Regions from separate parts of the Homo sapiens genome. Here region 2 is linked to region 1. A link means that fine-mapping ties the variant in region 1 to the expression of a gene that starts in the linked region. Tissue or cell type: whole blood. Region 1 holds a variant in brackets; the other region holds the start of a gene. All regions are shown on one strand. Distances are between the middles of the regions.

Region 1 (8,351 bases):
TACATAATAAAGATGGATGATTTATCTTAGAAACCACACATGCACTTAGATTCCAATCTGGTCTGGTCACTGAAGCATGGAACTAGGAAGTTTGCTCAAACATCATATTATTTATTTCAGATGTTGGGGAAAGTGCAGAAGCCCTTGGATGACAGAGAGAGACTATGCAGTGAACTGGAGAGGACCTAATTTGTGAAAGTGTCAGTCATGCCAAAGGGAGGAGCAGGGTCCAGGCTTAGGTGGTTACTGCAGAGGCTTCCACAAGCCGAGGAAAAAGACCCTCAGAGTCATTCCCTCTGGGGTCGGGGAGGGGGTGTTGAGGAGCTTTTATTTTTTTAACAACTGAATTAGTTTTTTATAGCCTCATTACAAATTTGGTAGTTTAAAACAACACACAACTATTATTTCACAATTTCTGTGAATTAGGAATCTGCTTACACCTTAGCTGGGATCCCTGTTTCAGGGTCTCCTATAAAGCTGCAATTACAGTATCTGCCAGGGCCATGGTCTCATCTGAAGGCTCAAATTGGGAAGAGTTTTCATCCAAGTTCATTCAGATGATGTAAGATTCAGTTCCTTGCAGGCTAATGGATTGAGGGCCTCAAGTTCTTAGTTATGTTAGCTGGAGGCCACCCTCAGTTCTTTGCCACATGGGCCTTTCCATTTGCTTCTTCAAAGGAAACGTGAGGAGCTGGAGAGAGTATTAGCCTGAGAAAGAGTGCCAGCAAGACAGAAATCACAGTCTTTTATAGCCTAATCTTGGAAAAAACATCCCATAACTTTTACCTTAATCACTTCATTAGAAACCAGCCAACTAGGTTTAGTCCATACTCAAAAGGAACAGATTACAGAAAAGAGTGAATACCAGGAGGATCATTAGGAACCATTTTAAAAGCCATTGGGAACCATTACCCTAACAACCTATCTCCTGAAGCTAGGAGTTAGGAAAAGAGTCCTTCCTGCATACTATGAAGAGAGCTGTGATTTAGGGTATATGCTTAGAAACCTGATTAATGTCAGAATAGAGTGTGCTTCAGCTAGTGATAGTATGAGTCCAGTCTCGACTTCTTCCTACCTTTGCAACCATTCTCCAGATAAAGGAGCCTCACACCAGCCTGAACAATAGATGCTCTACCCCAGTGCCTGCCCCCTCACTAGGTGGGGCTCACCATGCCTCAGTGGGAGAGGCCTGCCTGGCTCTAGCAGCTTCTTCATCTTCCTCGTTCTTCCTTTCCTCCATGACTCTTGTCAACCATTATTCCTATGCAACTTTAGGAAATGTTTTACTTCCCATTCTTGGTACTAAAAGCAAAACAGCATTTGTCCAAAAGGTAGGAAATGGCAGTCAGCTTTCTTTTCATCATTTGATACTTCTCTAGTGAGCTGTGAGTCAAATCTCTTCTGTGTCTATGATTTGAGGGGAAAGAGAATTAAAAGCAAATCCCAAAACTTTAATGAGCATTGTCAAATGAATAAGGAGTGAGATTAAATATTAAGCAAACCCAAATTTTATTCAGATCACCCAAAGTCAAGTTGGTGTACTTTACTATCAATTTTGTGTTATTTATAAGGAACAGATGAAATAATTTTGTCTTTTTTCACTTTATAAACCATAATTCTTATGTATTTTGGCTATTGTAGAGCTACCCACAAATGATTACATAATTTATAGCAATTTATTTTAAAAATTTAACCCACTGAATACAATGTTGAGATGAGAGCTTTTCAATGACAGAGAAAGCTCTTGATTTTAGTAGAGAAACAAATTATCAATATTTATAATTTTCTCATTTCATTTTTAGCATCTTGGCCAAATGTTTTATTAAAATTAAACTATTTTTAATGTATATTTTAAATCTAGAAGGTATATACATATATACACACATATATACAGTTATGTGTTGCTTAATGACAGATATATTCTGAGAAATGCATTGTTAGGCAATTACATAATTGTGCAAACATCATAGAATGTACTTACACAAACATAGATGGTATAGCCTACTACATATCTAGGCTATTGCTCTTAGGCTACAAACCTCGATAGCACATTACTGTAATGAATAGGCAATTGTAACACAATGGTATTTGTGTTATCTAAACATAGAAAAGGCACAGTAAAAATGTTGCATGATAATTTTATGGGATGACCATAGTATATATGGTCCATTGTTGACCAAAATGTTATTATGTGACACGTGACTGTATGTCCCAATACTAATAGCGGTTATCTCTCTTGGCAGTGGTTTATGCTTTTCTTAATTTTTCCAAGATTTCTATAATGAGTTAATCTATTATAATGAGACCAAACACATGTCATTAAAAAGAAAATAAGTCAAAACACCACTTTCTATTCATAGAAGAGTGGCTTTTAAGGTAAGTAGAACTTCAGTAAACTGTACTCTCTGAAATGTCTCTTCTAATATGGTATATACCAACTTTTAAAGCTGAGATTTTTATTTAGAAATAACTTTCTTTCAAACACCTTGGCTGTTAATGAAGAATATTTTTTCCTAATGAGTTTTGCATTTGTGGGTTTTTTCCCCTTTGTGTTTACACTGAATAAAAATTTACTCCTAATTCTCAGCTTTTAGCTTTTATGAGCGCTAGATGGCACTCTTGCTCAACCAAAATCTAGTTTGTTGCCCATATTTTGGTGCTGTGGGTCTTAGGAGAAGACGGGTTTGCAATGTCACAACACTTATGTTTTTAAAGGGGGGTTGGGGAAAAGAGACCAAAGTTTCCAAGTTTAAATAGCCGAGCTTAACTGATTTAGTGTTTCCATCTATTGAGAAAATAACCATATAATAACAACGATAACAGTCATTCATTTCACAAATATTTTTTGAGCACCTACCATCTTTAGTACTGTTCTAGGTACTCATATGCACTAAAGGGAAAAATAGATAAAAATCACTACCCTCGTAGAGCTTACATTCAAATGCTTGGATTTTTTTTTGCAGGTGCCACTTTAAACTCTGTACATGCATTCACCCATTTAATAGGAGGCTGAGACACAAAGAGGTTATCTAATTTGCCCCTGTTCACCTAGCTAGTGCAGATGGCAGAGCAAGGATTCAAACTCAGACATTTGGTCTCCAGAGTTTATTTTGTTAATTTCAATACTATACTGCCTCTTGAAACTAAAAAAACAAACAAAAAAACACTTTATTTTTTATTCTATTGAATGCAAATAATAAAAATTTACCTATTTATAATTTTTTCTAAATCTGCTTAATTCAAATATCTTTGCCATTTTATTAAAAAAAAAATTGACTAGATAAAATGTCTGTATTTTTTGGTGATTCCGTAGTCAACTATCGTGTTGCCTTAGCTCTCTTTCAAGTCACAAACACAGCTGGCCTTAAGTATTTATTTAAGCATCTTTATATTCCTGTTTACTTTAAACTCCTTGAATTAGCCATGCAATAATTTGGGTATGTTGTATTAAGAGCTCTACCACATTATGGTTCAGTCATTGTATAATTAAACATGAGGCATCAAGAATCAAAAGTTACTGTTTTACTTGCCTGCTCTCTCCATTGTGTCATTTTACATTTTAGTAGTACTGTGTTTTGTTTATTAAAAAAAGTAAAATCAACAATATACTATGAAGCTGAAAAATGATACAGAAGCCTAAATCATTTCTTAGTCTAGAGATGCATTTCATGGTTTTTAGAGGGCAGAAGGAACAAATTTACCTTTCTCTAAAAACATGCGACTTGGGGAAATTATATGTGACTTAGGGAAATTATGCTTGTGTTTCTCAAGGACTGGAGTTATATTCAACAACATACTTGTTGTAAACTACTGACTATAGAAGGGAAATCACCCACTATACAATAAAAATATTTATGGCTAATTCACACATAGATAACCTATCATTGAAACTTGCCTTTCAGGAAGCTGAAATAATTAATTCTTAACAGCTAGCTAGGTCCTTTTTCTTTTTTGCTGCAGAACTGTGTTAGAGGATAAAGCTGTATTTTTGAAATGCTAATAATTAAGAGTTAACTGTGTTTTAATTAAATTAAGTAATTAGTAAAAGAGGATCACTCCCTTCACCAGGGAGAAGAAAGTTTTCAGAGCAGAGATTTATTTTGGAAGATGCTACAATGTAAGCATTCTCAAATTGAGGATTATTGCTATTTTAGGTGTCTGAACCCCTTAAGCTGCATGCAAAACTGTGTACTCACTTGCATTTTTCTTGGGAGAGAGCCCGTGTTTTATCAGATTTTCAAAGAGATTGTGATCTTAAAAGATTAAGAACCATTGCTAAAACGAGAGTGACCTGCTGCATGTTAAACTTATTTTCCTTAAACTTTAGAGAAAAATTGAAGTGA[T/C]TGAAACTGGGGAGTTTTAAACCAACAAAGGGAAATTTTTGTTGACTAAATGTTAGCTCGTGCCTCTGAGTCTGCTGAGTGAGTACAAGACACATTCTTGCAGTGTGTCTGGTGAATATTTGTACTTGAGTTTCTTATGATGCTGGTCTTAAACTGGCAGGCCCTCACCTGGCAGTTTACAGGTTAAAAGTTTAAGTCTGGCTTCCAGAATATGAAAACACAGGGAGCTCAGCTGAGCACAGCAGAGTTGCAGCCCTCATGTAACATGAACAGGAAATACATATTAACACAGAAATTGATCCTAGACTGCCGGGGTCCATATCCCGATTCTGCCTGTCTAACCTCGAGGAAGTTACTTACCATCTCTGAGCTTCAGTTTATCATCAGCAAAATGAAGATAAAAGGACCTTCATCTCTTTAAGGTACTTAGCATTGTGCCTGTCTTAGAACTTAGTATGGTAAAAAAAAAAAAAAAGAAACAAAAACTATCTTTGTATATGCCTTAGTTATCTAAAATAGCACCTCTTCTTACCCTCTAGATCCTTATCTTGATTTATTTTTCTTCTTTGCCCCAAACACGACCTGAACTCGTTATTTACTTATATATTTATTCTGTCTGCCCTAGTAGGTTATAAGCTCCAGGAAGACTGAGACTTTTTCTTGTTCATTGCTGGACCCTCTAGACCAATGCTATCACATACATTGTCCAACAAATGTTTGTTGAATGAATGAATAATGTTAGCTATTATTATTACTTGGCAGTTTCTACCCACCCTCTCTCCCATCTGTGTGGACTGACTGTAGCTTTTTCTCTTTAAATGAGATGGGTAAACCAGGAGGAAAACGTCCTTCCCTACCTGGGTAGCTGAAGTCATAGCTTCAAAAGGAATATTAATTTCTTATACGCTCTTACTACTCAAGGTGTAGCCTATGGGTCAGCAGCATCAGTATCACTTAGGGAAGATATTGGAAATGCAGAATCTCAAGCCTCACCCCAGTTCTACTGGATCAGACTTGAATCCCCAAATGGTTCTAATGAATGTTATAGTTTGAAAAATGCTATGTTGACCACTTTAAGAATTTTGGATTTTATCTTAACAGTAATAGAGAACCACTAAAATCCTTTAGGTTGGAGATTACATTTTCAGATTTTTGATTTAAAGTGATTAACTTGTATTAGAAACAGTAGTTGTCTTTGGAAAAAGTAGCCATTGGCTGGGGACAGGAATGAGTCCAAGGCTTTTCACTGTATACGTTTTCATAAGCCCATTTCAACTGGTGGGCCCTGGCGGTGGCCTGTCTATGCTGTTCTCCCACCCCAATCCCACCCACCCCTACACTATGAAGGATAGACACCCTGCCCTCACATCAGCTGCTGCACACCCCACATACAGCTGCTGCCTGTCCACTTTCTGAGCCTAAGGTTGCGTACATGGGCCTTGTGTTCAGCCATAGGGAGGACAACCCATGTGTAGGCCCAGAGAGCTGGCTCAGCCCATTTGAGTAGAGATTCCTACGGTTCCAAGTACCTGAAGCATAATCTGGGTGGGCACATGCCCTAGTCCTGTGGACTTCATCTCTCAGAGGGGTGCAGCTGGAGGAGGTCCACAGCAGGCCCTCTAAAGTGTAGGGGCCCCACTCTCTGGGTCTCAGAGACTTAATGCTCTTTTGCACTTCCTACATTCAAATCACGTGAAAGTATTTTGTTCAATGTGAATCTGTTACCTACATTTAAAAAAATAAAATGGAACATTAAAATAAAATGATGGTTCTTGTGTGGGGCATGGATAGGTACAACAAAGGAGGCATGAAGACCAGTTAAAGGGCTGTTGCATTGTTTCAGCAGTAGGTGATGTAATGCTTGGATTAGCGTGATAATAAGATGTGGTTTCATCACATTTTTTAAGTAATTCATTGCTATGTTTTTTAAGTTTCATAAGCTCAGTATTAATTTTCTTAAGAGTTTGTGGAGGCTGGGTGCAGTGGCTCACAACTATAATCCCAGCACTTTAGAAGGCTGAGGCAGGAGGATTTCTTGAGGCCAGGAGTTTGAGACCAGCCTGGGAAACATAGTGAGACCCCCCCTCCCACCATCTCAACAAAAAAATAAAAAGTAAAAATTAGCTATGTGTCGTGGTACACGGCTGTGGTCCTGGCTACTTGGGATGCTGAGGTGGGAGGATCACTTGAACCCAGGAGTCCCAGGTAACAGTGAGCTATGATTGTATCACTGCCCTCCAGTCTGGGTGGCAGAGCAAGACCCAGTCTTAAAAAAAAAAAATTAAAGTTTGTGGGAATTAAGTTTTCTGGCCCATGAATATTTGAAGATGTTTTTACTTTTACCTCAGATTTTGTTACAGTTGATTTGAATATTAGGTTAAAATCATTTTCTCTCATAACTGTGAAGGCATTATTCCATTATTTTCTAGCATCTGGTGTTTATAATGAGAAGTCTTATGCCAGTCTCATTCTTATTCTTTTAGCATGGAACTTGGTGTTTTTTTTTGTTTGTTTGTTTTATTTTACCCCTCTCTAGGAGGCTTGTTTTTCTTTTTTCCGCAACTTTTTTTTTAAACCTATCAAATAGTTCAAAAAATAGTATGGAAAATGCCATATACCCTTCACCTAGAGTCACGTATTGTTAACATTTTGCCACGATGGCCTTCTCTGTTTTTTTCTCTCCTTTTGCTCAACCTCTTGAAAGTTACAAACACTTCACCCCAAAATACTTTATCATGTTTTTCCTAAGAAGAAGGACATTCTGGGAACTTAAGATGCTTTCATTTATCTTTAGAGTTTGAAATTTCGGCTGGGCGCGGTGGCTCACACCTGTAATCCCAGCACTTTGGGAGGCCGAGGCAGGTGGATCACCTGAGGTCAGGAGTTCCAGACCAGCCTGGCCAACATGATGAAACCCCATCTCTACTAAAAATACAAAAAATTAGCTAGGCATGGTGGTAGGTGCCTGTAATCCCAGCTACTTGGGAGGCAGAGGCAGGAGAATTGCTTGAACCCAGGAGACGGAGGTTGCAGTGAGCCAGGATCGTACCACTGCACTTCAGCCTGGGCAATAAGAGTGAAGCTCTGCCTCAAAAAAAAAAAAAAAAGCCCAGGAAATTTCACTGGTGTATGTCAGAATATGTTTCTCCCCACTATGCTTGGGTCTTTTCAATATAAAGATTGAATCTCAAATTACTCTTCTATCCTCTCTTTTGTTACTTCTCCTCTATTATATCTCTTATGTCTGTCCTTTTTTGACCAATAGTTAAGTGTTAGACCTTCATCTTAACCTTTTTTCATATACCGTTTCTTTTTTGTCTTTTTACTTTATATCTTGGAGAGTTCCCTGAACTTATCTTCCAAATTACAAATTTGCCCTTCAGCCCAGTTCTATTATTCAGTTCTTCTATTGACATGTTTATTTAGCAGCCATGTTTTTAACTTTCAATAACTCTTTTGTATTCTCAGATTGTTACTTTCTCTGAGCAGCCAGTTCTTATATTATGAGTATTTTATTCTCTGATGATATCAATTAAATTTTTAATTAGTTTCTTTTTCTCCCTGCTGAATCAGCCAGGATCCTAGCAGAAAATGGATGGCACACTCAGCTGGGGTGACTAAAGAGAAAAAGGACTGTCTACAAAGGTGTATGCAGGGTTAAGAGAAACCAAGAAGGGATGATGGGCATTTTGAACTAGTGACATCTGGAAGTCACTGTCCCCCCCAAACTTCAGGGGCAAAGGTTGAGTGTAGTTACTGGAACTCAGTGAGGTCTGCAGCTATAAGAGAAGCCTGCCTGCCTAACAGGAACTGTGGCCTTCAATAGAGGAATATACCCACTTCTGCCTTCAGAATAAATACCCTGACCTTCTTCTCCCTGTCCTCCAATTTGTTAGTGCCTCTCTATCATAAACCAAACAGTAAGAGTACCGTAATGATACAGTCCATAGTGGTGAGCATTTTGAAGCACAAAACAGGGTAGAGTAGGGCAGATACATACTTTGCAGG
Region 2 (8,000 bases), 380 kb before region 1:
AACTGAAGCTTCCTTAGACTAAATCAGAGTTAAAAACAAAACTACATTTTAAAAATCCACCTGTCAAGATAATTTTAGTTTGGTTAATTAAGTGGCTTCTGGATAAATGTTTCTTATAATCTTAGTGTTTGAAGGGCAAAGGCAGTCTTATTACAAAAATATGGGCAAGTATTTAACTGATCCTGAACCTATTTATGTGTTTAATCTTTGCAGCCTCTCAAGGTAGAGTCCTTGTGTTATCTCAGAATCTATGAAATCATAATTGTGCTTTGACTTCTGGGGAAGGTATTGAGTAAAAAGCAGCATACAGAGGAATAAGGTGGGAAGGAAAAATAGGAAAGAATGGGGGCCCCAAGTTTGTGATTTACCCACTCCAAGCCAAGAGACAAAGCTGGGTGTCATTCTTGAAGGGGCCCACCTGACCCCCACACCCAATTCATGGCCATGTTATGTCAGTTTCACCTTGAAATATCTTTTGACTCCATCCACTTCTCCCATCCTCACTATACCATGTCACTTGCCTGTACTCCTGACAAAGACCTGATTGATCCTTTCTACCACCTCCTGCTGGGCTTTCTCCACTGGAAGTGGTGATCTGTTTGGGCTCACCATTGTACCCTTAGCTTAGCATCAAACAGAGTGCCTTGCTGAATGAATGGATTTGCATTAGTTATTAAGATAAATATGACCGTGTCTCTGCTCTGCTTAAAATCCTTCTACAGAGTTTCCATTGGCCTTTAGAATAAAATCTCCAACTTCCTCTTGGGACCCTCTTCCCCATTCTCATTTCGTCACGTGGTTCCTTGGTGTTCCCCAAACATACCCAGCTCTTTCCTGCCTGAAGGCTTTGTGGCAGGTGGTTTCTCAGCCTTGAAAGTTGTCTGCCCCCACTCTGATTCATGAGTACTCATCTGTCCTCTAACCTCAATCAAACCATGTTGTCACATCCTCTCATGGCACTCTCTACACCTTTGGCGCAGATGTCACTTTTTAAATCATGGGCTCTGTCTCTGGCTATACTGCAGCCACAGCTTCCCGGCCCAGGACCATGGGTTTGTTGCTTGAAGATACTGGCCTGCAGGTACAAAGCCATATTACAGGTGACTTAAACATGCCACCTACAGTACTAGGGACCCAGTTTCTGGGCCCAGGAGATAAGAAATTGGGAGGTGACAGAACATGGTATGGGGCAGAGGAAGGAGGATCCTGTCGTAATGGCTCAGGTTTTAACCTAGGCTACTGCTAGGTTTTACCGTTTGCAAAAACATTAGAATGGGACTCCTTTTTTTCTTTTTTTGGACGGAGTTTCACCCTCGTTGCCCAGGCTGGAGTGCAATGGAACGATCTCAGCTTACCGCAACCTCCACCTCCCGAGTTCAAGCGATTCTCCTGCCTCAGCCTTCCTGAGTAGCTGGGATTACAGGCATGTGCCACCATGCCTGGCTAATTTTGTATTTTTCATAGAGTTGGGGTTTCTCCATGTTGCTCAGGCTGGTCTCGAACTCCCGACCTCAGGTGATCTGCCCGCCTCAGCCTCCCAAAGTGCTGGGATTACAGGCATGAGCCACTGTGCCCAGCCTTAGAATGGGACTCTTTAAACTGACTTCATGTGTCACCCACTTATTTGATCCAATATGAATTGGCCAATGTGATTGTGCCAGTATTTTTAGTTCTACATACACATAATTTGAATCATGACTCAAGATTCTAATTAAGGAGAGAAATTCTTGTGGTTAATAAATAGCTTTAATAGAGTTTTTTTTTTTTTTCTTGGAAGAAATTCTAAGTAGAACTTGGTTTGGGTCTTCTAGTCTGTTCATTTCTTAGGACAGCATTGAATGATAGGATTTTGGAGTAGAAATGGGCTGAGAAGGCTGAGTAATTAAACTGCCTCCATTTAGAGATGGGCAGACGAAGTGTGGTTGGTGACATCCAAGGTCACACTAGGCTAGCGTGAAGCAAAGCTGGAATCCAACCAGACCTTCTGGATTCCAGAACAATGTATTCCCTGCTGCTTTATGCCCCCATGTTAAGTATTTAATTAGCATAAGTTGAAACTTCAAGTCAGCAGTTTTTAGCACTGATGAACTCATTATTGTTCTCTGATCTTCTTTAAAGACAAATTTTATGATGTGTCATTCATAGAGCCACATGACCCTGCTTGGCAAAAGGCATTGAGTCAAGCCAGACCCCACTAAGCCTTTGCAAAGTGGAGCGGCTAGTTGTAGCCGCTGTAGTTGTAGTAAGTGGAGCGGCTAGTTGTGTACCATCTGCTAGTGAAAGGGAAATGAGATTATTCTAGAAGCCAGGGACTGTCTCGGGATCTCTTATGGTCTCTGGATCTCTTATGGTCTCTGGATCTCAAGGACAGCAACCCTCCTCTTTATTCCTCGGTTTTATTAGTGTTTCCAGCGTGACAGTTCACTTCCTCTAAACAAGACATAGCTTCGTATAATGCCAGCCTTTCACGCATCATTTTGAATCAACCCTGGGGTGGTGGAGCCCAGGGTAACCCAGCTGTAGTGGACTTTAGAACGTTTTTACACCATGTATTTAAATATGGGTGTGTCTGATATTCGGCAAATTCATTTCAAGCCAAATGACGTGTCACACTCAAAAGCTAGGATGGGCCCAACTGAGAGGCTGCCCTAGTTTTCTGAGCGTGACCTGGCTGAATTCCCTCGCCTCTCCTGGCAGAGAACAGGCATTTCCCCTTGCTTTCGTCCCACTGCCTGCTTCTCAGCTCGAGCTGGGAACAGTGAGTGTTCAGGTCTTACTGGGTCTCAGATATTTTCCAGATGAAATGCAAAATGAGAATAAAGGGAGAGGCCCTATTCCCTCCCAGCTCTTTATGGTCTCTGGATCTCAAGGACAGCAACCCTCTTATTTATACCTGGGTTTTATTAGTGCTTCCAGTGTAACAGTATCACTTCGTCTAAACAAGAAACAGCATCTTATAATGCCAGCCTTTCATGCGTCATTTTGGGTCAACCCTGGGGTGGTGGAGCCGACAGACCTGGGCCCCCAAACAGCTCTGCCACTTGCTGTGTGCAGATCACAGAACATCTGTGACTCAGTTTCCTTTTTGGTAAAATGGGACTGTTGCAAGCACTGATGTTGAGGTAATACTCATAGGATGACGGTCAATAAATGAGACGATGTTTTTTAATATTAACTAGCTAAAAGACTGGACGCGTCCCTTCACTTTAGGCGCTGTTCCTTATCGGGAATACGACGAAGCTGATCCCAAAGGCCTCTCCAGCCCTTTTCAGCAGACAGTCCCGTGGGTCCTCACTCTAAGGCATTCTTTGAAGACTTGGTCTCTCTTCCACACACCCCTCCCATTCCCCATCTCTTAGTGGTGGTCTAACCCGCCCCGCCATCCCCTTCCCTCTCACTTCTCATATCCATTTGGAAGCTGCAGATTGCTGAGTTTCCAGGACTTTAATCCGCGCCCTTTGCCCTCGGCCCGGGCTTAGGGGTCGACCTCTGTCACAGGAGGCGCACTCTGCGCTTGGATCCATCCTGGGGCGCCCGGGCCGTGGATCTCCAGGTGGGAGACCGGAGGAGAGCGCAGACGTTCCGGCGCCACCCTCGGACCCGCCGGCTTTTCCAAACCTCTTGAGGAGCCTGAGCGCCCTCTCGGCCCGGCGCTGGGAGGCTGCCAGCGGACCTGGGACCGCGGCGGGGGCGGGTGGTCCTCGCCTTGCGGCGGGGAAAGAGCTAGCCTTGCACGCGCAAGCACCGGCAAGGAGCCCAGGCCGAGGGTGCGCGGTCCAGCACTGGGCGCCCTGACCCTCGAGCTCCTCAGCCCCCAACAGGCCAGACCCACCCAGAGGCCCCAGAGCGGAACGGGGTGTCCGCAGCGCCACGCCCTCGGGCGCCACCCTGCAGGCATGGGCGGGCCCAAGACTGTCCCCGCTGGAGGCGGTAGAGGGATCCAGAAGTAATGAGATGCTAATGAGTCGCGAATAAAGCCCGGGCGGCGCCCCGCGCCCCTCGCGGAAGCCCACACTCCGCGCGACTCCAGGCGCACGCCCCGGGCCGCCCCGCATCCCAGCATCCCCGCCCGATCTCGGCGTTTCCGCCCCCGCCCCCGCCCCCGCCCTCCCACCCGCTCAGACCTGGTTGCCAGCCCAACAGGAAGCGGCCCCTCCCGGCTTCGGAGCCGCCGGTAAGTCGTCCAGCGGAGCCGGCTGCGAGCCCCGCGGCCGGGTGGGGTGAGGTGGGGTGCGCTTCCGGGGAAACGCAGCTGCGGTCGCTCGGGAACCACGCCTGGCAGGTCAGGCAGGTCTTCCCTCAGCCCAGCCCTGCTCACGCCGCGTCCGGACTTTGCCGTCCAGTGTCGGGGACCCCCACCGCTGCCGCCCGCGGTCCAGCTCCCTCTCCATCCTTTCAGACCGCTCCACCCCTCTCACAGCCTTTGTCCTGGCGTTTCCAGGCTGGGTCGCTCCTTTCTCCCCTTTCGCCGAGGTCTTCCTCCTTCCACCCTCCACCCCCAAGAAAGATCTTTGCCCTTCCGTCATGAGATTCCGTCTGCCCTCGTCCGGGCCACCCGCAGCGGGAGGCTTTCATCTCCTGTCTCGGCGCGGCGGGCTGGGAACGGAGGGGCAGCTGGATGGTGGAGGGGCCTGAGCCTCAGGGACCTGCCCCCACTGCTGCCATTCACCCTCCCTAACGCTGCCGTGGACACCCGCCTCCTCCATACCCTCTGATACCTTCTGGGCCCCGCGTGAGAAACCCCCTCGGGCACCCTTCAGGTGGCGTGGGAGGGGGCGACAAAGCGAGGCTTTGTCTCCGGAGATTCCTGGGAGAGCGCGCCCGGGCGCACAGGGGGCGGGGCGGGGTAGGGGTCGATCAGGGAGGGGGGAACCTGGGAGGGGCGCACCCGGCTGCGGTCGACCCCCAGCCCTACCCACGGCCCCCTGGAGTAGGGCACATTCACAGAGGAAGTGTTTTGACCACAGTGCGTCAGAAATAGACCCAGGCCTCCGTTCCCCAGTCAGTCGCAACATCCTCCCGCCGTTTGTTGAGGCAGTTTGGTGGAGGGAAGTGGAACCTACGCGGACAGAGGCTGTTTCTCTGTCAGGAGGCAAGCACGAGTGCTGAGGAAAACTTTGCCCTTGCCATGAGACACTTCTCAGACACAGCGTGGCACTGAGGCCATCAAGGGGCGCCGGCACAGGGACGCTTGGAGGGAGATGGGGCAGGATGTATGCTCAGCAGCTGGGGTTGTGGGTATCAGATCTGTCCCTGTGTTGCATGCAAAGGCAGCTCTGTCCTCTCCACATCTAAGAAATCCCCGCACACCCTGATTCCAAGGCCTAAGGAAGGCAGGCTAAGAATTCCTACCCCAGGGCTTGGAGATCCCTGGACAGGGAGGCTGAACTGGAGGCTCCCCTGGTGTCCCATGTGCCCTCTGTGCCCAAGACTAATGTTTTTCACTTCCAAATTTGGCAAATTTCACTTGGAGTGGACTGGATAGCAGCTGTCTCTGGAGCAGATGCTGGCAGGGGAATGGGCTGGGAGGAGCAGAGCCAATCACTGGTGAATCCCGAGCTCCCTGGGGACACCAGCCTGCTCTCTTCGCCTCCCCTTCCTTTTTATTTCTTCTGTTCTCCAGCCTCTTCCCCTTCTTTTTCCACCTCTCCAGCCACTCATCTCTGCCCAGCTGCTGCCCTCCCCAGGAGGCCTCCATGGCTTCACCTACCTCCACCAACCCAGCGCATGCCCACTTTGAGAGCTTCCTGCAGGCCCAGCTGTGCCAGGACGTGCTGAGCAGCTTCCAGGAGCTGTGTGGGGCCCTGGGGCTGGAACCCGGTGGGGGGCTGCCCCAGTACCACAAGATCAAGGACCAGCTCAACTACTGGAGCGCCAAGTCACTGTGGACCAAGCTGGACAAGCGAGCAGGCCAGCCTGTCTACCAGCAGGGCCGGGCCTGCACCAGCACCAAGGTGGATACACGGTGCCTGGGATGGGGTGTGGAGCATGCGGGGAGTCAGAGGACGGACAGGATGCCATGCCCTCACTGCCCTGTGTGTTCACAGTGCCTGGTGGTGGGTGCTGGACCTTGCGGGCTGCGGGTCGCTGTGGAGCTGGCGCTGCTGGGGGCCCGAGTGGTGCTGGTGGAAAAGCGCACCAAGTTCTCTCGCCACAACGTGCTCCACCTCTGGCCCTTCACCATCCACGACCTGCGGGCACTCGGTGCTAAGAAGTTCTACGGGCGCTTCTGCACCGGCACCCTGGACCACATCAGTGAGCACCACGTGGTGGCCTGGAGGGGCGGGTGAGCTTGGGCCTAGAGGCAGGCCAGTGGGGAAATGCTGGGACAGCCAAATGTCGAAGTGGACAAGATCCGTATCAGCCAGGTGACCTTGAAGATTCAGGTCCCCCATCTATAAGTGGGCTTTTGGGCTGAGTGATTGCTAAGGCCTTTTCCAGTCTGACCCTGACCAGGCACACACTGGTACATGGGGAGCTTGTGCTGCCCTAGGGTCCCTGTTCCTAATGTCCTCTCCCTTCCAGGCATCAGGCAGCTCCAGCTGCTTCTGCTGAAGGTAGCATTGCTGCTGGGGGTGGAAATTCACTGGGGTGTCACTTTCACTGGCCTCCAGCCCCCTCCTAGGAAGGGTAAGTATTTCTATGCTCCCTGGAATCTCCCCCTCCCCCATCAAGAACTTGGCCAGTGTCTGAAAAAGGATGGGCCAGGAGTGTCCTTTTCTGTTTTTGTTTTGAGACAGAGTCTCGTTCTGTCACCCAGGCTGGAGTGCAGTGGCATGATCTCGGCTCACTGCAACCTCTGCCACCCAGTTTCAAGTGATTCTCCTGCCTCAGCCTCCTGAGGAGCTGGGATTACAGGCATGTGCCACCATGCCCAGCTAATTTTTGTATTTTTTTAAGTAGAGACGGGGTTTCACTGTGTTGGCCAGGCTGGTCTCGAACTACTGACCTCAAGTGATCCACCCACCTCGGTCTCCCAAAGTGCTGGGATTACAGGCGTGACCCACCATGCCAGCCAGGAGTCTCCTTTTCTAATAGTGTGGCCTTGGGCAAGCCACTCTGAGCCTCAGATTGAGCATTTGCAAAACAAGAATAACACTTCCTTCCTCACCTGCCTTCCATAGCTGCTGTGAAGGTGTAATCTGATAGATAATATATCATTGCTTTCTAAACCAGAGAGTCCTTTACACGTTTTGATGATTTCACTGGTTTGTCCTGAGAGTATAGGGGCTCTTACGACTTCTACACCTTTGTGCCTCTCATACCCCCTGCCCTAGGGAGTGGCTGGCGTGCCCAGCTCCAACCCAACCCCCCTGCCCAGCTGGCCAACTATGAATTTGACGTCCTTATCTCGGCTGCAGGAGGTAAATTCGTCCCTGAAGGTGAGTGATCACTTCCCTCAAAGAAGCCAGCATCTCTGGCACATCCTGGGCCTTTCTAGATTGTTATAACCCCCTCCTCCTGCCATTGTTCACCTACCGCCACCTCTAGGCTTCAAAGTTCGAGAAATGCGAGGCAAACTGGCCATTGGCATCACAGCCAACTTTGTGAATGGACGCACCGTGGAGGAGACACAGGTGCCGGAGATCAGTGGTGTAGCCAGGATCTACAACCAGAGCTTCTTCCAGAGCCTTCTCAAAGCCACAGGTCAGGGACCCTCTTGCTGAATTTCCCCTCCCCCTGCCTGACTGTGGCCTGGCTCCTGCCTCTCCCTTCCAAACTTGTCCTCACTGCAAGGAACTCCACACTTTTCTGTTTTTTTGGTCTCAGCAGCAAAGGAGAAGGAACCTGTCCCCTCAGGGATTAAGCAAGCACAGCCCTAGTTGATCACCCAGCATGAAAAGTCCTGGAATCTCTCAGAGATGAACCTGTGTATGGGAGTTTTGCTTAAGTGGTACTTCAAGAAGGTGCCTCTGTTTACTTTGGTTTTGCACTGCCATGCGACCAGGTGGTGCAGGTCTCCCAAATGCCACCCCCCTCCAAGCTTCCCTCTTTGCTCT

What was found. PIP is the estimated chance that this variant, and not a neighbour inherited with it, causes the effect.
Region 2: MICAL1 starts here. The variant in region 1 is fine-mapped to the expression of MICAL1 in whole blood (TOPMed, PIP above 0.99).

Annotation. Positions count from the first base shown.
Region 1 is chr6:109,067,821-109,076,171 of GRCh38, reverse strand. All of the region lies in intron 1 of SESN1 (sestrin 1), which reads left to right. Among named protein-coding and RNA genes, the nearest start is that of SESN1, 23 kb to the left of the region's middle. The variant T/C (reference allele first, on the strand shown) is at 4,344.
Region 2 is chr6:109,451,893-109,459,892 of GRCh38, reverse strand. It overlaps MICAL1 (microtubule associated monooxygenase, calponin and LIM domain containing 1), which reads left to right and starts at 4,121. Exons shown (of 25, transcript NM_022765.4): 1 at 4,121-4,174; 2 at 5,654-5,954; 3 at 6,048-6,255; 4 at 6,526-6,630; 5 at 7,278-7,382; 6 at 7,492-7,647. The coding sequence starts at 5,697. RefSeq lists enhancers at 700-749, 4,609-5,117, 5,200-5,249, 5,480-5,529 and silencers at 3,500-4,349, 4,710-5,049.